Homo sapiens: one gene and its partners. Each later gene encodes a partner of the first gene's protein in a complex. Each region holds a gene or a part of one and is shown on either strand. Other genes may lie near its edges. A codon is read from its position in the direction of its gene.

Evidence for each region.
Region 2: the proteins of PIN1 (region 1) and SMAD2 are in contact, whole or in part, in an NMR structure (PDB 2LB3), measured with the Homo sapiens proteins. Residues at the interface, in NP_006212.1 of Homo sapiens: Glu12, Arg14, Met15, Ser16, Arg17, Ser18, Tyr23 (codon at 554), Phe25 (codon at 560), Trp34 (codon at 587); in NP_001003652.1 of Homo sapiens: Pro218, Glu219, Thr220, Pro221, Pro222, Gly224.
Region 3: the proteins of PIN1 (region 1) and MAPT are in contact, whole or in part, in an NMR structure (PDB 1I8H), measured with the Homo sapiens proteins. Residues at the interface, in NP_006212.1 of Homo sapiens: Arg17, Val22 (codon at 551), Ser32 (codon at 581), Gln33 (codon at 584), Trp34 (codon at 587); in NP_058519.3 of Homo sapiens: Val546, Arg547, Thr548, Pro549, Pro550, Lys551, Ser552, Pro553.

What each region holds. Positions count from the first base shown.
Region 1 is NC_000019.10:9,837,891-9,845,410, forward strand, and holds part of PIN1 (peptidyl-prolyl cis-trans isomerase NIMA-interacting 1), read left to right. Parts: intron 1-121; coding exon of another isoform or gene 122-185; intron 186-545; coding exon 546-758; intron 759-7,520. UniProt on the Homo sapiens protein: Peptidyl-prolyl cis/trans isomerase (PPIase) that binds to and isomerizes specific phosphorylated Ser/Thr-Pro (pSer/Thr-Pro) motifs.
Region 2 is NC_000018.10:47,927,181-47,935,502, reverse strand, and holds the start of SMAD2 (mothers against decapentaplegic homolog 2), read left to right. Parts: upstream 1-4,843; 5' UTR 4,844-5,142; intron 5,143-8,322. UniProt on the Homo sapiens protein: Receptor-regulated SMAD (R-SMAD) that is an intracellular signal transducer and transcriptional modulator activated by TGF-beta (transforming growth factor) and activin type 1 receptor kinases.
Region 3 is NC_000017.11:45,897,480-45,904,999, forward strand, and holds part of MAPT (microtubule-associated protein tau), read left to right. Parts: exon of another isoform or gene 1-1,319; intron 1,320-7,520. UniProt on the Homo sapiens protein: Promotes microtubule assembly and stability, and might be involved in the establishment and maintenance of neuronal polarity.

The DNA of each region.
Region 1 (7,520 bases):
TCCCAAAGTGCTGGGATTACAGGTGAGAGCCACCGTGCTTAGCCCTTTTAAAAATGTTTAAAAATTATTATTTAGTCCTTTCAATGACCCTAAGGTAGGAACTGTTATCTCCATTTTGCAGGTGAGAACACCAAGGCCCAGGGAAGATATATCACATTTGAACCCAGATTCAGATTTGAATCCAGGTGGCCTGGCTGCTGAGTGCATGGTTTGAGTCACTCCCTGTCCCCCAGCTTCCTCTGTTCCATCACTCTGGGTTATTTTCCTCCTTGAAGTTATCAGGGATTGATACTATCCTGTGTTTCATTTGCTTGTTTAGCACCTGTCTGCTCTCACCTAGAATGTTAGCTCTCTAAGGGCAGGGACTGTATCCTGCCACATTGGCCCACGTCTGGAGAGCCTGTGGCACATGGTGGATACACCATGGATTTGTTGAATGAAGGCGCCCCCTGCAAGCCAGGCCCTCACCCTGGCTTCTGGCTGTGGGCCCAGGGGTGTCCTGGGAGCACAACCCTAGCTGAATTCCTGCCTGCCCTCCCCTCCAGGCCGAGTGTACTACTTCAACCACATCACTAACGCCAGCCAGTGGGAGCGGCCCAGCGGCAACAGCAGCAGTGGTGGCAAAAACGGGCAGGGGGAGCCTGCCAGGGTCCGCTGCTCGCACCTGCTGGTGAAGCACAGCCAGTCACGGCGGCCCTCGTCCTGGCGGCAGGAGAAGATCACCCGGACCAAGGAGGAGGCCCTGGAGCTGATCAACGGTGAGCAGGGCGAGGGCAGGGGCTTGGGAGGGGGTCTTCTCCCAGGTGAGCCTTTGTAGAAGTCACATCAGACCCTTCACCCCAGCTTGCTCAGCTGCCAGGCGTGGTGTTGGCCAACACAAAAACGCCAGTGCATGACCTGACCCTGACCTTCACAGCAGCCATTCTCTTTCTTTTCCATCTGGCATTTGAGGGTGAGCCAGGTAGGGGCAGAGGACCCAGCCTGGGGGCTGGCAGACATGGGTTCAGGTAGTAGCTGTGCCTCTGTGAACTCTGTGACCTTTGGGAGGGGACTCGTGTCACCTCCCCTAGACTCAGCTTTCTCTGTAAAATGGGCATCCTCTAAGGACCATTGTGAAGGTTCAAGGGAATAAGGCAATGGATTTTGCACAGTAGGCCCTCAGTCTGTGGGAAGTGTTGTCAATAGTAATATCATCCACTAGGGGCCTGAGTCATAAACATAGGTGGATCCAGAGAGAGCAGTCAGGAAGGTAGTGAGTGCATGCAGGGTGCGGTGGCTCACGCCTGTAATCCCAGCACTTTGGGAGGCCTTGGAGGGCAGATCACCTGAGGTCAGGAGTTCAAGATTAGCCTGGGCAGTATGGTGAAACTCCATCTCTACTAAAAATACAAAGATTAGCCAGATGTGTTGACGCATGCCTGTAATCCCAGCTACTCGGGAGGCTGAGGCAGGGAGGCAGAGGTTGCAGTGAGCCGAGATCGCACCACTCCACTCCAGCCTGGGCAGCAAAGTGAGGCACCATCTCAAAAAAAAAAAAAAAAAAGAGGTAGTGAGTGCCAGTAGATAGTGAGTTAATTCTGACCTAAGGGAGGAAGCTATTCCCTGCTCTGTTCTGTGTTTCCTCTGCAGTCTGGCACCAAGGTGGCAAACTTTAAAGGCCAGATGGTAAATATTTTAGGTTTTGTGGGCCATGCAGTCTCTATCAGCTCTGCTTTGTAACTGGATAGCACTCATAACTAATATGTAAGCAAGCACATGGTCATGGCTGTGTGCCAAGAAAACTTTACTATTTACAAAATCTGGGAGGATTTGGCCTGCAGGCCATCATTTGCAGAGCCCTGTCTAAAGCTGTCCAGTTTGGCTGCCACTCCCACCCTGTGCGGGAGGATCACTTGAGCCCAGGAGTTTGAGACCAGCTTGGGCAACATAGCAAAACCCCGTCTCTAAAAAAATAAAAAAATTAGCTGGACATGGTGGTGCACGCCTGTAGTGTCAGCTACTTAGAAGACTGAGGTGGGAGGATCCTTTGAGCCCAGGAGGCAGAGGTTGTAATGAGCCGAGATCACACTACCGCACTCCAGCCTGGGTGACAGAGCAAGACCCTGTCTCAAAAATAAATAAGATAATATCAAAAATTGGTTTCTCAATTGCACTGGTCATACTTTAGCTGGTGGCTGCCATCTTTGACAGCGGGAATATAAAACATTTACATTCTTGGCCGGGCGCGGTGGCTCACGTCTGTAATTCCAGCACTTTGGGAGGCCAAGGTGGGTGGATCACGAAGTCAGGAGATCGAGACCATCCTGGCTAACACGGTGAAACCCTGTCTTTACTGAAAATCCAAAAAAATTAGTCTGGCATGGTGGCGGGCACCTGTAGTCCCAGCTACTCGGGAGATAGGCAGGAGAATGGCATGAACCCGGGAGGTGGAGCTTGCAGTGAGCTGAGATCGTGCCACTGCACTCCAGCCTCGGCAACAGAGCGAGACTCCGTCTCAAAAAAACAAAAACAAAAACAAAAAAAAACACTTTTCCATTCTTGCAGTAAGTTGTGTCTGATGCCTTTCTCAGAGTCCCCAAACCTGGGCTGTCCCTACTCCAAACAACCCATCTCTCAACCATGCCCAGACAGCCTGGGTTGCTATGCAGCTCTGCCACGTCCTGGCTATGTGCTCTTGAGCAAGTTACTTAACATCTCTGGGCTTCAATCTTTTTCTCCTTCTTCTTTTGAGACAGGGTCTTGCTCTGTCACCCAGGCTGGAGTGCAGTGTTCATAGCTCACTGCAGCCTCAACCTCCTTGGGATCAGGTGATCCTCCCACCTCAGCCTCCCAAGTAGCTGGGACTGCAGGCTCATAACACCACACCTGGCTGATTTTTGTATTTTTAGTAGAGACAGGACTTCACCATGTTGCCTAGGATGGTCTCAAACTCCTGGCCTCAAGTGATCCTTCCACCTCAGCCTCCCGAAGTGTTGGGATGACAAGCATGAACCACCGCCCCCAGCTGTCAGTCTTTTTCATTTATAAAATTAGTATTAGAATAATAAGACCCACTTCACAGGGTAGTTGTGAGGACTCCTGGCTAATACAGTAAAGCGGGAGTAACAGCTCCTGGCATCGGTAAATGTTCTGTCATTGTTAGTGGTCACTGTCATTGCTGTTGTTGGTTGTGGTAGCACAGGGCCCAGCACAGAGTGTACACTCGGTCAGTATTGGCTGTTGTTTTACTCTCTCATCACTTGGTCCAGTTGGCCTGTAGGATGTTATTACATATGCACACCCCCAACATGGCATCTAGGACAGTAAGTGCCACCCGTTAGTCTTATATGTAAGCATGGCAGAGAGAAGCCGAGTTCTTGCACAGAATCTTGAAGGCTGATTGAAGAGCCAGCCTCCTGACCTCTGAGGGCAGGGACTGGATCTCTCTCTTTCCCCTGTATTCCCATCCTGCCACACAAAGCCTGGCCCAGAGTCAGCCCTCACAGCCTTGTTTCATGAGCCAGTAGGAAGCAAGAAGGATTCCTGGCACAGGACGGGGCAGAAGTAAAGGCCTAGGACTAGGATGTAGCCAGAACTCTGGGGAAGGCTTTGCAGGGAGCTAGGGGGTGATGAGACCCTTCACGGGCAGGTCCCAGCCAGGTTGAGGAGGGTCCTTGTCAGGTGAGGAGGTTTGGTTCTTTCCTGGAGGCAGCAGGACATATGTGGCCATGTGGGACCAGGAGAGGAACCCACAGTGCTCTGCTTTCAGCAGAGATCTGTGAAGCTAGAATGTCAAGGGCCAGGGAAGTGGAAGGCCCAGAACCTTCAGGGGTTCTGGTTGCCCCAGAGCAAGAAGAAGAAGTGGAGGGAGAAGCCAGGAGAGAATTGCAAGATGACCCTTCAGGTCCTCCCAGCTCTAGTGGTCTCTGTTCTGAGGCTTCCGGACCCTATAAGAGTGAGCAGGAGGGTGCAGGCATTTGGGGATGGAGCGGCATGAAGTGGGCTCCTGGGGGTCAGCAGAGCAGCCAGGCGCAGGACAGAGCTGCTCCAAGCAATCCTGATGAGAGCTGGCAGAAGGCTGAGGTCGGTGGGGATAGTGAGGAGGGCATGGGTCTGGGTGTGGTGGGCGAGGGTGTCTCGCCCATCTCTGGGTTGGACAGGTGCACCTGGTAAGTAGCCAGGCCCTGAGGCGTCACCGTAGGTACCTGCAGATTCTGGAATGTCAGCAGGAGCCTTGCCTGCCCACCTGGTGGAAGCTGTGGGAGGAATTGGAGCAAGAGGCGGTGTGACTTGAACTTGGGGGCTGGAAGTGGAAGAAGAAGTGAGAGGGAGCAGACCCGAGAGAGATTCAGGAGGCAGGATAGAGAGGACTGGGTGATGGATTAGGTGGGCAAGGGTGGGATGTCTGGGGGAGGGTCAGGGCAGAACAGCGTGGCCCACCCTGGGCTCGTACAGGGCTGGATTTCAGTGCCAGCTGTGTGGTCTTCATTTCCTGAGCCTCAGTTGCCTCATCTGTAGAATGGGGAGAGGGTGGCTATGAGGATCCAGGAGCTATGGGCTCAGTGGCTGGCGTGCTCTGCACGGTGGAGCCTCAGCCCCAGTCATTGGGGTGTGGACGATGGGGGAGCTGAGGTCAAGTCAAGGCCTCTGCTCACGGGCAGCCCCTGCTGCCACCCCACAGCCCGTAGAAAGAGTTCCGGATAGGACCACAGGAGGCCTGGTGGGCTCAGCACACAGATGATGACCTTGGCACACGACCTCCCTCTCCTGGTATCCTCCTGCCTGAGACGGTGCTGGGGCAGATCTCCTCAGAGGTCGATAGGAGGATGCAGTGAGGTGGCCCCGGCCGAGGTACACTCGGTAACAGATCATCATGTGCAGTGTCGGCGCAGGCATTGGGCACCTGGGCCTCATTTTCTCTTCCATGAAGTGGATGTTCTCCCCTCGAGGGTTCATGCCGGGTGATCAGGAGACCATGATTTGGGCAGCTCACTCCCCAGCTGGCAGCCGGGCTAAATCTCATCAGTGCCCATTTAGATCTGGTGCTCCGCCCTTGCCCCGAAGGGACAGGCTGCCTGCAGAGAGAGCCGGGACCTCCACATTTTCTGCTGAGGCTCCTTTTCCCAGCATTGGCTCCTCTGCAGCTGCTGGGCCACAGCCAGAGGCTGTCAGAGATCCAAGGGAGTCATTGCCAGTGTCCTTGTCTAAGGAGGATGGGCCATGGAGAAGCCCTCCCTGCCCGCTCTCCACCCAGATCTGTTGACAGCCACCCCTCACATGCCCAGGGCCTGGAGGGTCCCAGCAAGGCTGAGACTATGAGCAGCTGTCCTACTCACATACCCATCCCAGCATCCAGGTCAGCCCCTTTGTCCTGGGGTCCTCAAGGTCACTGGCGCCCTTCCAGCCTGCTGGCCTTGGGCCAGCCTCTAGCCCCTCCTTCTGGATCTTGGTCTTCTCAGATCTGACCCTGTCACCTCTTTCCCCGACCAGGCCCCTTCCCCTCTGGTGCCTGGGCAGCCTGGGGGAAGTATGCTGGAAGCAGCGTAATGATCTGGCAAGGCAGAGGAGACAGCACGTCTTGAAACATTTTTGGGGTCAAGGACTACCCCATTTGTTCCCTCACTCCCACCTAGGTCACTGATGTGCATTAGCTTGGACTGTTGTAACAAAATATCACAGACAGTGTGGCTTAAACAACAGTCATCACTTTCCACAGTTCTGGAGGCCAGAAGTCCACAATCCAGGTTCCCTCAGATTCTGTTCCTGGCGAGAACCCACTTCCTGGCTTGTAGACGGCTGCCCTCTCACTGTGCACTCACATGGCATTCCCCAGGCGCATGTGCACGGAGTGAAGGAGCACGAGCTCTCTGGTGTCTCTTATAAGGACACTAATCCTGGCCAGGCGCAGTGGCTCATGCCTGTAATCCCAGCACTTTGGGAGACTGAGGTGGGTGGATCACCTGAGGTCAGGAATTCAAGACCAGCCTGGCCAACATGGTAAAACTCCATCTCTACTAAAAATACTAAAAAAAAAGCCAGATGTAGTGGCGCACACCTGTGATCCCAGCTACTCAGGAGGCTGAGGCAGGAGGATCGCTGGAACCTGGGAGGCAGAGGTCACAGTGAGCCGAGATTGTACCACTGCACTCCAGCCTGGGTGACAGAGCCAGATTCTGCCTCAAAAAAAAAAGGGGCGCTAATCCTGTTGGATCAGGGCCCCACCCTTATGACCTCATTTAACCCTAGTTACTTCCCCAAAGTCCCCATCTCCAGATGCAGCCACACTGGAGGTTAGGGCTTTAACACATGAATTTGGGGTGACACAAACATTGAGTCCATAACGGATGGGCAGCTTGGATCTGTCAGGGGCCTGCTCTGCAACAGCCACTGCTTAAGCGGTCACTGATTCACTCCTTGGAACAGGCTCCAACGTGGGAGCAGCGGTTACCCCATTTTACAGGCCAGTTGAGTGAGGCTCCAAGAGGTAAAGTCACCTGCCAGACTCTCATTGTTCAGGAGCAGCAGAGGTAGGATCTGGACCTGATGGAGTCTGGAGTCAGCACCCATAACATGTCCTCCTGGACCTTGGGGATACACTGTGAGCAGGCTGGCTGGGGTCTGCCAGCACAGATAGGTGCCATTCTGTTTTGCATACTATTTCAGGGGGTCCTGAACACCTTGAAGCAGGTGGAGGCCCCTGCTCCAGACTGGGAGCTCCTGGAGAGGCCACCCTGTGTCTGTGTGGTTCTAAGCTGGAGCCACATCGAATCAGGATGGGGCTCCAGCACCCGACAGTCCCCATCAAATTTCACAGGTTTTGGCGCCGTCGGGCAAGGCTGACACATTGTCTTGGAGGAGGCCCAGGAAGTCTGGCCTTAGGGTCGCAGCCTGAGTTTCAGGCAGATAGGGCATGAGATTCCAGCATTTCTGCTTCGAGCCCCGTGGTAGATCCCTGTCTCCCTCCTTCCCCATGGCCTATTTCTGTCTCATTTATTCATTAACTTCTTGAACATTCGTGAACACCTGTTTTGTGCACAGTGCTGGGTTCTGAGGGTGCAGCAATGAAGAAGGCCAACCCAGCAGCCTCCATTCCTGCACTGTGAGGCGGGCAAGCAACACACCAATGGGACGGTAGTAAATGCAGCACCCAGGGGGAGGCACCTAACACAGTGGGGGATTAGGGGAGGCTTCTTGGGGAGACCAGAGGATAGCTGATGAGTTTCAGGCAGGACAAGAGGCTTAAACCAAGGTCTGCGAGGTGGGAGTCGGAGGATGTCATTGTCGCGGGGTCAGGTACAGGCTGAGCTAACAAGACACACAGGACCAAACCCCTCAAGGTCAGCCTCACAGAGCAGGAACTCAGGAAGAAAGCGTTTTTGTTTGTTTGTTTGTTTGTTTGTTTGTTTGTTTGAAATGGAGTTTCGCTCTTGTTGCCCACGCTGGAGTGCAGTGGCAACGATCTCAGCTCACTGTACCTTCTACCTCCCAGTTTCAAGAGAAAGCGTTTTTTTGTTTGTTTGTTTGTTTGTTTGTTTGTTTGA
Region 2 (8,322 bases), on another chromosome or scaffold:
TCAAACAATTTGTATATTGTTCTTTCAGGGTTTAGACACTGGCCTTTGTTATTCTTTTCTCAAAATATGTACATCTCAGATATTTAAATGCCTTTATGGGAGAGCTCATTGCATTGGAATTGTATTGTAATTTTCCAAATAATATTTGAACAGTCACTGAGTTATCCAATGATCTATTCATCTAATCATTATTTATCCATTTAAGTGTAGAGATAAGAAATATAATAGTAAGATGCCTGGAGAATGATGAGAAATATAATTTGTTTTGCCATATATTTTTGTCTTTATCCGAGCCAACTTCTCTTTTAATCTCTTTCTCTCTTTAATTATAAAAAATCCTGTCTTATTTTTTTTGAGTGACTTTGGCCAAAGAGTGAGAATTTTCCACTATGATCAACCAATGCTTCTGTGGTAGGTGCATGACAGACACCTGATGAACACTTGTTACATTTGAAGTTTTTTTCTCATATATGCCTTATTCCTGTCTCCTGCATTTCCTATCAGATGTGAAATACTATTTCTTTTTAGCAAAAACTAACATGAATAAGGATTGTGTGTTGGGGGGGGCGCATATGTTCAAATCTGCAACATAAATTCATTTGGAACCTGAAATTTCATTGTATCAATATAAATATCTAGCTGGTGTTGGATTTCTTCCTTATTATTTACAATAAAAGTAAGCCCATGCATTTGTTCTTTAAAATTTTTACTTATCTCATTTAATCAGGGTCCTCTCAGTTGCAAATAACTGGATCTTTCCTTAAGATGTAGTAATGCTCACTGCAATTTAATCCCACTAGGATGAGCAAATGATGTTGAAAAGAGACCCAACAGTTGTATGGAGGGCCACTATAAACCGGAAGAATGGGCGCAAAGCTGTGTAGAATGTTTGCAGATCTGTGACATGTTTTTCTTTTATACAAATGCTGTATTTCATCTTTCTTCAATTACTTAGTATTTTGGTAAGGGTAGGGGAAGACAAGTGAAAATAAGTTGTCCTTGTCCTTCAGGAACTTACAATCTAGATGGGGAGACAATATATATACACAGGAGAAGCTGGAAAAAAAAACTGCTCAAGACTAAATGAATGGTATGTATATCATCGTAAGTATAAGAGAGAAAATTCATATGTGAATGGTATAGCTTTGGGCTGGGGAAGCCAGAAAGGGCTTTAAAGATTTACCAGAAGGGGAGAATATGAGTTGTTTTTTGAAAGATCATGACTGTGTGTGTGTGGTGTGTGTGTGTGTGTGTCTTTGTATGTATGGATAGAGAGTTCAATGAATAAATGAGGGTACTGAAGCTCTATACAGAGCTTCCAAGGATGAGCAGAGGTTGGTCAGGCACCATAGGGCAAGTGCTTTCTAGCAGAACAAAGAGCACAGCATAGGCACTGGGGAACGAGAGAACATGGTGATTAGGGAAACTGTCAGGAGTTCATTCTGGCTGGGGAAAAGGGAGCAAGGTGGGGAGTGTTGAGATGTGACACTACAGAGACTGGCCTGGGATGGATCATTAAGGATCTTTTAGGTTATGCTAAACAGTCTTGATTTTACCCTGGGGAAAAAAAAACTGGAAGAAGGAAACTATCAATCAAGGTAGTGATATCAGATTTACATTTAGAAAATATGCTATTAAAAAAAATTCTGGCAGCAGGAAGGAGGATGAATTGGAAGGCAGCAAGAGTGGAGGCAAGAAGACCAGCTGAGGAGCTAAAGCAGTACTTCCAATGAAAGACAATGAAGTCTGAACCAAGGCAGTGAGCTTTTTCAAAAAAATCAAACTACAGAAGAAATAATGATGAAATTTAAATTTTCCACTTATGACCCTCAGGCTCTTTCCAGAAGCAACCACCATTATCATTTTTCTTTCGTGTCTTTCCAGTGCACTTAACTACTTTTGAATTGGATTCTGAATTGATTTGGATGTAATTGATTTTGCAGTGTCATGTTTAATGAAGGGTTAAACTTGGTCTCTATCCATATAAAAATAAGACTCATTCAATCTAATTTATACAATAGGGACCTACTGATAGATCTTGAGGTACCCTAGTGGATTTCCAAGCTGTTTGTTGCCATAGCAATCCCTGCTCTATGTGCCTTCAGTTTCTGTCTTGACCCACTTTGGTTTAGATGCATTTCTAGCAGAGGGGACAGTAGGCATGCTCCCATTTCTAAGCCCCTTGGGGACTGCATTGGTAGCCAGATTGTCCCTTCTCCCTCTTCCTCAATTGTAGATCCTGGAAGGCTTCCTAAATGGAAGAGTTATGGACCCAAAGTCTGAGACTTTGGAGAAATGGTCTAACTTAGACCTCAGGCGTACTACCCACTTAATTAATGTAACCTCAAAGTACCTAACTTCCATACTAGGAGCACATTCTGGAATCCCAGCCAGGCCTGCTTTGGTTCCTATTTCTACTACTCAGGTGGACACCCAAATCCACACCCTGTTCACACAGGAGAAAATACTTGTGTGACCAGGGTAGCTTTTAATATGCTACTTCATATTACAACTGTTGACTTGTATTAGCAGGAAGACAGACCAAAAACAAGAAACAGCCTTCCTACTTGTAAGTTGAACAGCCTTTGCCCTGGACCGTCCTCCCTAGTGGCTCTGGAAAGAGGAAACAAGGCAGAGGAGGTGGGACAGCTCCACCAAATGGCTTCCTGGGTGTCCTTCACAAACTTTTTTATTTTTATTAAGGGGTTAGTAGAGCTGCCTCTAAACTAACAATGGAAGAAACCACCCTGGAAGGGAATTTTTGGAGGAAGAATTTCTGCTGAGTAGGTTCGTCTCAGCATAAATGTTCGCACGCAACAGAAGAGAAGTTAATGATCACTGACTTTCCTTGAACTTCAAAGCCCTATGTTATTTACTTTCATATTTATTATTTAATCATCACACAACTATATTTAAGTAGGTATCGTTGCAGGTGAGTTCCATTTGCCAAAGATTACAGATCTGGAACAGAGTCGTACTCAAAGCTACAACGTGCCTGACTCCTGGGTTTATGCTCTTCATCGCAACCTTCCCGTGAGAAAAGTTCCTCTATGTGTGAGGACAGAGACGGTGGAAAGGACAGAGATTTTGAAAGGACATCTGGAAAACTTGTATGACTCAGGGGATGGCCACATCTCTCTTAAGGTCCATCTGAAGGCACCCTCCTCTGGGACACGTTCATTTCTCAGAAGAAAGCGTATACTTCAAAAACTCTTACTGTTTGGAGTGCTCATTTGGTACTTCCTGATTACCGATTTGTATTGCTAGTGCTTCTTTCCCGCTTATTTGAAGTCCCCAATTAAATCTATAAACTAAGCCACACATGAGAATGAATTACTGGACAGGCAGCCAAAAAAAAACTGTGTTCTAGTCTTGTCTCTGGCACCTGTGTGAAACCTAAGTTTCTTTTCAACTTTAGTTCTACGGTACTCCCTGCCTGTGTCACAGTGGGTGCATAGTAAACACCTGATGTGATTAGTTGGGCTCAATATTTTGTCAGCAGAGGCTTGGGTGTTCCTAAGGGTAACCGCAACAAGGTTTTCCCTGGGTGCAGTTATGTTCTGGGCAGCCGTAAGTTTAGGGCCTTGCTGCCTCCTGTAGGGCAGATGTGCAAGTTGGGGCCTAATCGTCGCAACAGTGGAGAAAAGGGGAAGGGAAGATATCCCAGCCATTAAGGGACATCGTGACAGATGTTTCTTTTAGACTTCACAAAGACCCTTCGGGACATGGATTATTGATATCATTTTTACTGAAGACGGAACCAAAATTTAGGTTAAACACTTATACCTGGCATCCCCTACCCGGGCCCTAAGTGCTCTCCAAAGACCCCACCTCTGGGCTTATTTACATCGCGAACCCGCCCTCGTTCAGCAACACGAGGGCCCCGCCCGCTCATTTGCATAGGGCGCGCCCAGTCACGGGCCGGGTCCTCGGGCTTCTCCCGAACCCCTTTTCTCTCTCAGGCGCGTCCTCCGCGCTGCGCGGGGCCTCCCCGTGGGATGAGCACGTGTCCGCTGCCGGCCTCACGACGGACGGTGGACGAGGCGGCAGGCCCCTACAGGCCCCACCCACGACGCTGGCGAGGGATCGGGCGGTCACCGGGAATCGTCTTAATGCGCGGCAAGGCGCGGGCCTCTCCCTCTCCGCCCGTGAGCCCCGGTGGGAGCGCGCCGGCGCCCAACTCAAGCGAAACCGCGGGCGTCCCGCCCCGCCCGGCCGCGCCCCGCCTCGCCTCACGCTAGACTGGGGAGGCGGGACCAATCAGCGAGCGACGTCTCCCTTCCGATTCGAGGCCCCCGATGCGCGGCTCACACCCCGAGCTTCCCTCGTGCTGATTGGCTGCGGGCGCCGCCGGTCCGGCCGGGAGGCGGGGCGGGCCGTAGGCAAAGGGAGGTGGGGAGGCGGTGGCCGGCGACTCCCCGCGCCCCGCTCGCCCCCCGGCCCTTCCCGCGGTGCTCGGCCTCGTTCCTTTCCTCCTCCGCTCCCTCCGTCTTCCATACCCGCCCCGCGCGGCTTTCGGCCGGCGTGCCTCGCGCCCTAACGGGCGGCTGGAGGCGCCAATCAGCGGGCGGCAGGGTGCCAGCCCCGGGGCTGCGCCGGCGAATCGGCGGGGCCCGCGGCCCAGGGTGGCAGGCGGGTCTACCCGCGCGGCCGCGGCGGCGGAGAAGCAGCTCGCCAGCCAGCAGCCCGCCAGCCGCCGGGAGGTGGGTGCGTGGCGCCGCGGCGGCCGGCGGCCGAGGGCGGAGGGCGGAAGCGGAGGTGGGCTGGCGGGGGAGGGCGCGGCCGTGCGGGCGGCCGGTAGGGCTGCGGGCGCGCGCCTGAGGGGAGGAGGGGCAGCGCGGGCGCGCGCGTCCTCACCCCCTCCTTCCCCGCGGGCGGCGGCCAGGCTCCCTCCCCTCCCCTTCCCTCTCCTCCCCTCCCCTCCCCTCTCTTCCCCTACCCTCCCGCGCGCCCGGGCCGCCGGCCGGGCCCGGGCCTGGGGGCGGGGCGGGAAGACGGCGGCCGGGAGTGTTTTCAGTTCCGCCTCCAATCGCCCATTCCCCTCTTCCCCTCCCAGCCCCCTCCATCCCATCGGAAGAGGAAGGAACAAAAGGTCCCGGACCCCCCGGATCTGACGGGGCGGGACCTGGCGCCACCTTGCAGGTAAAGCCTGGGCGCCCGCGGGCCTCCAGCTAGGGAAGTGTTTGCGTGCGTCCGCGGCCGGGGCGATGGGCCGTGTCACATGGCCGCTGCGGGTGGGGGCTGGGGTGTGGTGAGTTCGGGGGCTGTGGGTGCGCCGGCCCGGGCGTGCGGGTTCGGGGCCGGAGAGCCGGGAAGGGACGGGGCTCGGTTGCACTGCGCTGCCGCCCAGGCTGACGGGGGCGGGGGCTGCCTGCGTCCCTTCCCCTCGCTGCTCTCACACTCCATAGTTTGTGGTTCTGATTTTTAAAGCCGAAGGGCCAGAGCTCTTGTTTCAGGAGTTGTGGGGAAGCCTTGTTAGGGACGCGTAATACTTTGCCTCCACTTTTTTTTTTTGGTCTCGTAACCTTTGTTAACAGTGGTAGTCTCGGGTTTTCCATGGCTTGTGTGTACTCACAAACACGCACACAGCTGATAACTCTGTGATCATCCTTCACTCACTTGTGAAAGTTGTTCTGCGGGTGGAGCCTATTAGTTTTTATCACACGCCTTTGGAAAGCCCTCGAAGTGATTTCTCGTATTTCAAACTTGGTTTTTAAAATTGCAACTTACTTTGTTCTCTTGGAGGGGGATATTGTCTTTGGGTCAGGTACTTTTGTCTTTTACTTATCCTTAAAATGTCCTTTTGATCCTAAACAGAAAAAGAATGCCTGGGTTGGTTTTGTTATTCCTTTCTCTTGACCCTTTAAAAGCAAAATACCACCAGTGTGTTGTCAACCATACCTTTAAAAAAGAAATTTCCAGGTAAAACGAATTTGCAAGCAGCATTTTCCATCAAAGTCATGTCTTGTTTGTTGCAATTTGGACTATCTTAAATTTGGGTTTGTGAAACTTTTAAAACGACATGTGTAAAATAATTGTTAATAAATAAATAACTTGGAATAATTACATCTTTTTAGAAATGGTCTTTGAAATGTGATTTAATTTCCAAAATTCTTTTTCTCTCTTCTGACTTCATATGAATTGAACCTGATAGTTTCGTATGAATGAATCGCTGATAGGATGTTTTCCTTGAGCCTAGTAATAAATTTGCTCTTATTATGCTGAAAATTTGCTATTCTACTTTAACACCCTTTAAAAAGTTTCCATCTTACAGAGAAGTTAGTCAAATAGTTAAATGGAGTTTCAACAGTTTTAATACATGAATTAGTGAAGCAGATGAAGCAGAGATGGGAGAAGTAATTTAAAATGGGCTTCATAAATGTACCATAGTTTGAGGGTATTTAAAAAATTTGCCTTCGGAAAACCCATACAAGATATTTAAAGAATTTCCTCTGCCAGAAGGTCATTTAGCAAACGTTTATATTAAATTCAAAAGTAATACTTTTATTTTTAAAGTTCCTTAGCCGTTGCCGTAAACTTAGCTGTCGTAGTAAATATAAATAGTTCACATCTTTCGGCATTTCTAAAGAGTGTGCCCACTTTTACTATAAATATTAAACTCTGCTGGATTTAATTGAGTTCAAGGCTGTTCACTGGCCAGGTTTAATTAATGTAATGTGATTGGAAACGTTCATTTTGGGGTTTTAGTAAGAAATTGCTCTTAGAGCTTGGTTTTTATACTTAGCCACACCTTCTAAAGTGCGGCCACAAGCATTGTAGGTGTTCAACAAAAGTTTGGGTTTTCAAGGTTGTAACCTACGTTTACTTAGTCATAAGTGGTCATGTCTCTACACAGTCTGTAAGTTTCATGAAATAATAGTCTTTTAAGAAACTGTGCAGGGTAATTTCCTGTTGTTTGTGTCTTATCAGGCTTGGTATGTGTTTTAACTCTTGTGTAGGAATATTGGGGATGGTTTTGGTATTTCAACAGAACTTTAGTAGGAACAAAGGTTGTTTCTATTCTACTTCAAGATGGCCAGAGGTTGTTGTCCCCTTTTCATTTTCACATTGTAAATATTAGAATCATGTTGCTATAATCTTTACTTCACATTTGGGGGAATATATGTCAATGGAAAAACTCGGTTTAGCTGTGTAAACCGCTGGCCAAAGACCTATTGAATTTTTACATTTTGCAAATACTGTCAGTTTTAAAAGTCTTTCCTTGTTCTTGTTTGGTTTTGATTCTGTTGGTTTTGTGCTTTAGGGCTCCAAAAACCTCGTTTTGTAGCAGCTTTTTTATACAGGTGTTTTTGTAATGCATATAAAAGCTGTATTTAGTGCAGTCTGGCAGATGGAGATTTATTCATATTCTTAGGACAAAGAGTCATTTTTAGAGGGTAGAGGGGGGCATGTCTTTTAGATTCTTAGTCTTTTGATGGGTGTAGAAGAGCCATTTTTAGGCCCTTAGTTTCTGTGAGAGGTAAGATGTTTTCCCCTAAGTATTCCAAAGGTATGTCAGAAAATGTGAAACGTAAGGAATTCACAACCAGTTAAGAGAGGTTATGAGAGATTATGCATTTATATATTTTATTTTATTTTATTTTGAGACGGAGTTCACTCTTGTTGCCCAGGCTGGAGTGCAATGGCACGATCTCGGCTCACCGCAACCTCCGCCTCCTGGGTTCAAGCGCTTCTCCTGCCTCAGCCTCCTGAGTAGCTGGGATTACAGGCATGCGCCACCATGCCTGGCTGATTTTGTATTTTTAGTAGAGACGGGGTTTCACCATGTTGGTCAGGCTGGTCTCGAACTCCCGACCTCAGGTGATCCGCCCACCTCGGCCTCCCAAAGTGCTGGGATTACAGGCGTGAGTCACCGCGCCTGGCCGATGCATTTATTTTCAACAAATACATTTATTCATTTATTCAACAAACAGCTTTTTCTGTGTGTCAGGCTCTGGACTAGGCAATAAAGTCTCTTAACAGCAAACAAGTACACCCCTGTTCCTTAATGGAGTTAGAAAAGTGGAAACTCATGTCCCTTGCCCTATTCTCCAGTGTTTAGAGTAAGACAGTTGTTAGTGTACAAATCAAGGGCACATGCATTACTGAGCCATTCCTAAAGTGAGCTTGCCTTGCTTCCTGTAACATGTAGCAGATAGCACTAGGGAAGATGTGAAGTGTTACTCAGTGTCACTGGGAACAATCTGTGTATTTTGGGGGGACCTTGGCACCAGTTTTGCACAGTCTATACAAACTGAAGATACGGCCAGTCTTTCAGAAACATGTTTATTGCTGAACAGATGTACACTTGTAGAGCTAAGC
Region 3 (7,520 bases), on another chromosome or scaffold:
AAACTCTATCCTGGCTCTGCGCGCGCTTTAAGGAAATGGCTTCCCTCCAGGACCTCGAGGGATGCAGCTTTTGCGCGGATGACGGTGGGGTGCTGAACCAGCCGGTGCGCCTCTGGAAATGTCTGGGCACGGATCCTGGGGCCATCGACGACTCCTCCCCATTCCCAGCAGGCGGGAGCTCTTACATTCCGAGCGAGTGACCCCTCTCACCCTCTGGCGCTCACACACCTGTAACTCCAAACCTCCGTCTCAGAATGGTCCAGGCTGGAAGGGATGATGGGGGCTCCGACAGCGACTGCCTAGCTCACCCCTCTGCGTGCTCAGGCTCCAGGCTCAGCAGGACCAATTTGAGTTCTATCTGATCCCCCTCGGCCCCTTAACTGACCCATCCTACAGGAGACAGGGAAATGTCTTTCCTACCGCGGTTGATTCTGGGGTGTCATTTTGTGTTTTGTGATGGCTGCTTATATTTACTGTATAAGCATTGTATTTACTGTATAAGCATTGTATTATAATTACTGTATAAGCTGCTTATATTTACTGTATAAGCATCTCCAAATCCTCCCTCTACGTAAACAAATTAATGGATAAACAGATAAGTGTATCCCCTGCCCCCACCCCTGCTACGCAGGTCCGGAGTGACTCTTGAAGCTCATACATTCCTTGGCCAAGTTTGCTTCTCTAACAGATGTTTATATAGCAATAACCTGGCTTGGCTCTTGGGTTCACCTTTGGACGATTTGGGGAAGGGGCTTGTTGGCTTTGCTGGGTTTTGGATGAGTGACAGTCCATGACTGTTCCTGCTGGAAGGGCGTGACTTTTAAGTGGTTTCTAATATCAGGCATTGCTCCTCCGACAGGAACAAAAGAAATGGATACTGCCCATAAATTGTTAGAAAACTTAGAATCGCTTTGATTGAGGAAAGGTTAGATTTATTCCGGTTGGAAAAAGTGGCCTTTCTATTAAACGTGCCCTTTGACCCTCATGCCCTTGGAGGTCGGTGCCAGCCTGGAGATGGGATAAGATTGTGGTTTTCCTTCTGCCTTTTTAACATCTGTTGTTACAGTCCATTTGTTGAAAATTTAAAGAAACTGTTTTATTCCACTTTCCCTCAGCATTTATGTGTGTGGTTTCAGTAGCTCTGTGGCTATATGTACGAACACGTGTTATTTTTCCAATTGGACATGTGATAATTTTCCAACTGGACCTTGCCTTCTATTGATGTATTTATTTAGCATCTTCCTTACTCCCTCCTTGAAAAAGAATCACTCAAAAACAAATAAAAACAGCCGTAGGGGCCTAATACAGTGCTAGACATACAAGAGGTATTCGGTCCATACCAAATGGATTTTATCCATGAAGGATAAATGGGGAAATACAGTGGGAAGCAGGTGGGAAACTGCGTTTGACTCTGCTCTTTCCTCCACCACCACTTTCCTCATCACCGTGTTCAGAGACCCCCAAAGCCCCCTCACACTCCCAGAAACACCCCCCTGGCCACTCCTAACTTGCCATGCCCAGGAGTTAGGTGCTTCCACTAGTGACATGGAGCTGGCGTTTGGGGGGCACCTCAGCAGGTGACGGGAAGAGAAGACCCCAGCCTCACCAGCTGGGCTGCAGCAGGGAGAGGAGTCCTCATGTTCCAGCAGGGACTCTCAGCTGTTTTCCTGTAAAACCATGGTTCTCAACTGGGGGCCACTGAGATGTCTAGAGAGATGTTTTTGTTTTCACAACTCGGGGAGGGTGCTACTGACATCTTGTGGGTAGAGGCCAGGAATGCTGTTAAACATCCTACAAGGAAGGCACAGGACAGTCTCCTACATCAAAATATGACCCAGTCCCAATGTCACCACTGCTGGGGTTGACACTGGCACTGCTATCTTAATTACATTCATTGAGTGTCTTTTAGGAGGCCCTATTCTAAGTGCTTGCTAAGATTATCTCATTTAATCCTCACAACACTTCCGCTATGTAGCAGGTGCTGTTATTATCTCCGTGATGGGGAAACTGAAGCACAGAGAGGGTTAGTAACTTGCTAAAGGTCACAGAGCCAGTGGGTGGTGGAGCTGGTTGCCTGACACTAGTTCCCTCCCCTCTCAGCCACATGTGGGTTTACTTGGCCATTGTGGACTAGTCTGGGAACCCAGATATGATCTATAACATTGACCCAGTAGAATATTGATTCCAAAACCACTGTCTCACAAATGAATTTTTACAAGAGTCTGTAATCGGAGCATGACCCAGAATAAGGTTAGGGAGATGTGGAGTTAAAGCTCTCAATTTCTTATCTGGCCCCGACACAGAGAGCAAGGCATTTCACTCTACATTGGTGCTCTGTTTATAAAACAAAGAGCAAATATCTCTTCCTAAGGTCCTTAAACCTCTTCCCCCAATCCAGGGTTTCTGGACTGCTCTGCCATATGACGGGGCAGCTGGTTTGATTGACCCAGGGAAGGCTGGAAATCAAGACTGGGGGATCAAGACGTAGATTCAGTGTGGCCAAGGTCAAGTCTCTGAGGTTTAGGGACATCAGATCCCCAGCTTAGGTTCTGTACCTCGGCAAGGTGAAAGCGTTGGCGCCCACTGATGAGGCCTGCTCTGAGATTGTGGGTGTGGGTTGAGTTGGGTGGGCATAGGCAAGTCCTCTTGTAAGAATCTTTTGGCAAAGATGGGCCTGGGAGGCTTTTCTCACTTCCTGGGGCCCAGGCTTTGCAATAAGTATTCCATTATACTGTGGTACCTTGGGGCTACCTGAGAATCCTCTGTCTCGCCCCTGTTGCCTTGCCAAAGAGTTTGCTGTCCAAGAATTCCTTTCCTGTCTCCAGGTGCCATGCTCCTGCCACCTCTGCCAGGTTCCCTGCCTGCCCAGATGGCTCCCAACTGAGTGTGAGGAGGAATTTGAGACAGGTTTTGAGCTTTCTGGGTTCTCCAGTTAGGAAACTTTCTGTAAGCATGCAGATAGAATGGGCTTCAGCAAAATACAAACTCGAACAACTTCCATGTATAGTCCCTTAATTTTCTTTGCTTTTTTCATATTTCATCAGGCTCCATGCTGAGCCCAATCAGGGACCCGATAGAAATCCAAACACCATGTCAGCGAGTCCCCAAGAAATGCATTTTGTGCCAAGGCTATTCAAGGAAGGTTTGGGAGCAGCTCAAGGGCAGACACTGTTACCCTCCCCCAGGTCCCCAGTGCAGGGCAGTGTTCTGCATGTGGAGGCAGTTTGGCCTAATGGTTAAGGAGGTAGGCTCTGATCGGGCCTCCTGGGCACAAATCCCAGCTCCCTGCTCACTGTGAGACCTAAGCCATATTGTTTAGCTGCTTGGAGAGTTTTTTGTCATCCACAACTTGGAGTATGATGGTACCTGTCTCACGGGTTGCCATGGGGTTCACACAAGCTAACCCGGTACTCACTAGGGCCAAGCACATAGTAACTGCTCAGTAAATGGCATCATCGGCGGTGTCCTGTGGATGAGTGCTTGTGATTGGCTGAATGACCAGAGGGGTCTAAAGATCCTGGTGATGGAATCAGTTGTACAGATAAATTGTTACACTGAGTAGGGATCAAGATAGGAAAAGTCGGCAACTACCCAGCTCCCCTGCACCAAACTGGGCAGAAGTGGATCCTCTGAAAATTGCACACACCCATGTTTAAATGTACACACAGAACTCTTGCCACAGGCAAGCGGAGATTTGTCATCTGCTGTCCCTGCCTCATCTTCTTCCTGAAATCCACTCCATGCCAGGAATAAACTGCATGCTCTCCACCAGCCCAAACTGACCTGCCTTCCCGCCAGCCATCCCGGGCAGGGTGACCTGGCTTAGTACATCGGGTTCAGAGATCTTTCCAGTTTACTCGTTGAATAAAAAGTGAGGGCTGATCGAGAAAGTAATGGCAGTCAGGGAAGGCGAAGGAGGTAAAGAAGAGATTTTACAAATGAAGTAATTCAACAGAGTGCTGACATTGGTAAACTGGCAAACAGATTTCAGGGTGGTTGGTTGAGAGTAGAGTAGAAAAGGATTAAATAAAGCAAACTTGTGGTGTACTGAATCTTAGGAATTCCATGTATCCAATAAGTATAGTCATTTATGAATTAATAAATTCGGCCTAAGAAGCCTTCTTATCGCTTAAATCAAGACTAAGTAACAATATATCAGTTTTAAAAAGTCATTATATCAGAAAATCATTTAAATGATACACATAGATTTCCAAGATTTTACTTTAACCGAAACTATATAAATGTGAATTTGTTCACCCATCTTTTGACACAGGGCTCAGGTCTTCTCTTGGTGTCTGGATCAGCCAGTTGAAATTTCTTGTCTGTTTTGCCTATGCCACATTAATAATGCACTGTCTGGGTCCTCCGATTTCAGTTTGGATTTTGGGTTTACATTGTGGAGTCATCTGAATGCAGAATCCTTCAGGGATTTTACTTTTTTTTTTTTTTTTCATGGTCTTTACCATCCCATTTGATAGTAAATATTACTCACCTTTATGAAGTCTTTCCAAAACATTCAACTAAATTTTCTTAAAATCATTGAATGATTTGAAGAGCTTATTCCTCAGCACTTTTACTCCATCAGCTTGCACCTTATTTTTTAATCTTTTTTTGAGACGGAGTCTCGCTCTATCGCCCAGGCTTAAGTGCAATGGCGCGATCTTGGCTCACTGCGACCTCCACCTCCTGGGTTCAAGCAATTCCGCCTCAGCCTCCGCCGTAGCCGGGACTACAGGTACACACCATAATGCTCGGCTGATTTTTGTATTTTTGTAGGGATGGGGTATCGCCATGTTGGCCAGGCTGGTCCCGAACTTCTGACCCAAGTGATCCACCCACCTCGGCCTCCCAAAGTGCTGGGATTACAGGTGTGAGCCACCGCGCCCGGCCAGCTTGCACCTTATTTAGGATATGTGATTATTATAGCAAGTCTGGTGTACATACAAGATTTTGAATGGGCACAGATGACCTTTAGTAAGTGCTTGGCTGTGATAAGAGGCAGTCCTGACTGCAGATCAGGCTGTGTGGACCCCAGCCTTGCATGTTTACAGACCTTCATGTCTTATTCTTACAGGGTATCAGAAGAACACCTACTGGGGAAACTTATAAATTAGTAAAAGGTGGGCATTCTCCCCGCCCATCTTCTGTCTGTCTGCCAGGACTAGCACAGCACTTTGAAGTCATTCACATAGAATCCCAACTTAAGAGGGTAAAATCCTCCTCAACAGACTGAAAATAAGTTTAAATTCCCTTTGCTATATTAACTCCCCTGAGGAAAGAGTCTTAGATCAATGTCCAACACTAAAAACAGTTTTAAATCAGCAAGTGAGAATTAAATCTGAAGCAATTGATAATAATGTTTCATTCATTCCTCTCCTTTGGCCCCGTCCACCCTACTGCTAAATCCAGGCATCAAAGAGAAGAGGGACATAATTATCTCTAGTCCCAGCTGCTGGTTTTCCTTCCAGCCTATGGCCCAGTTTTCTGTTTTACTGAGAAGGCTGGTGATGTTATCTTGGGATCTAAGTCTGCAGTTTCACCACAAAAAGTCCAGGGATGCACTTTCATGCTTGTGTCCTCCTCCCTGGGATAGCAAGGATATTAGAAGACCCCTGGCTCTGTAATTGCTTGTCATGTGCTCTACAGACGCCACAGAATGCCAAGAACGAAGTGCTGGGAAGGACAAATTCATGGAACCGTGGGACGGTGCTCCTCCCCCAGCGTAAAGGACAGCTCCTCCTCCTGAATTGGAGCCAGCGTTCTAAATCATGTGTCAACAGAGTTGTCCTGGATCGGATCCAGTTCTGCCATTGATTTGCAGGTCATTTCAGTGGTACCTGTTTCCAGTTGTTCTTAATTGAACAGTGGCACCAAACTATTGTCTTGCCTCATCCCCCTCCCATGGCCTGTCCCCCAAAAAGAGACTTCTTGGGTAATTAATCAGGGCAACATCAGGCAGTCTGGGCGCGGTGGCTCACGCCTGTAATCCCAGCACTTTGGGAGGCCGAGGCGGGCAGATCATGAGGTTAGGAGATTGAGACCATCCTGGCTTTGTGAAACCCCGTCTCTACTAAAAATACAAAAAATTAGCCGGGCGTGGTGGCGGGCGCCTGTAGTCCCAGCTACTCGAGAGGCTGAGGCAGGGGAATGGCGTGAACCCGGGAGGTGGAGGTTGCAGTGAGCCGAGATCGCACCACTGCACTCTAGCCTGGGCGACAGAGCTAGACTTCTTCTCAAAAAAAAAAAAAAAAAGGAATCTCTTTGGTTTTATATATATTTTTTTTATATATATAATATATATTAAAATATAATATATATATTTATATAATATAATATATAAATATATTATATATTATATATTTTATATATTATATATTATATATATTATATATTATATATTTATATATTTATATATTATATATATTTATATATTATATATTTATATATATTATATATTTATATATAATATATATTATATATTATATATTATATATTATATATTATATATTTATATATATTATATATTATATATATTATATATTATATATTTATATATTATATATTTATATATATTATATATTATATATTATATATTTATATATTATATATTTATATATTATATATATTTATATATATTATATATTATATATTATATATGTATATATTATATATGTTATATATTATATATATTTATATATATAATATATTGTATATATTATATATCTAATATATTATATATATTATATATATTATATATTATAATATATATTATATATTATATATTATATATATTTTTATATATATAATATGTATAATATATAATATATATAAAAACATATATAATATATATTATATATTATATATATATTATATATATTATATATATTAAATATATTTTATATATATTATATATATATACACATATATATATATAAATGAGGCCAGGCTCGGTGGCTCACACTTGTAATCCCAGCACTGTGGGAGGATCACTTGAAGCCAGGAGTCTGAGACTAGCCTGGGCAACAAAACAAGATCCTGTCTCTACAAAAGGAAACTGTAAAAATTAGCTGGGCATGATGGCATGTGTCTGTAGCCCTAGCTACTTGGGAGGCCGAAGCAGGAGGATCGCTTGAGCCCAGGAGTTCAAGGCTACAGTGAGCTATGATTGTCCCATAGCACTCCAGCCTGGGTAACACAGCAAGGCCCTGTCTCTAAACTTTTTTTTTTTAATTCTATTTATATTTACATGTATTTAAATGTGAATATTCACTACCTATTTGTTGCATGCCTGCATTTTTTATACTGGGCTTGCCAAAAACCCGAACAGCTTTCTACTTTGACAATGTATCAGAATTTAAATCAGCAATATGTTAATAAGCCAAGCAAAGGTTATATATGCAAATAAAACTGTTGTCTATAACCTCCTGTTACACTGGGGCACAGCAAAAGTCATGGTGTAGTCGCATGTGAACCTGTCCCTTTCATAGCTGCTCATTGCCAGGAAACATCAGGAATAGCCA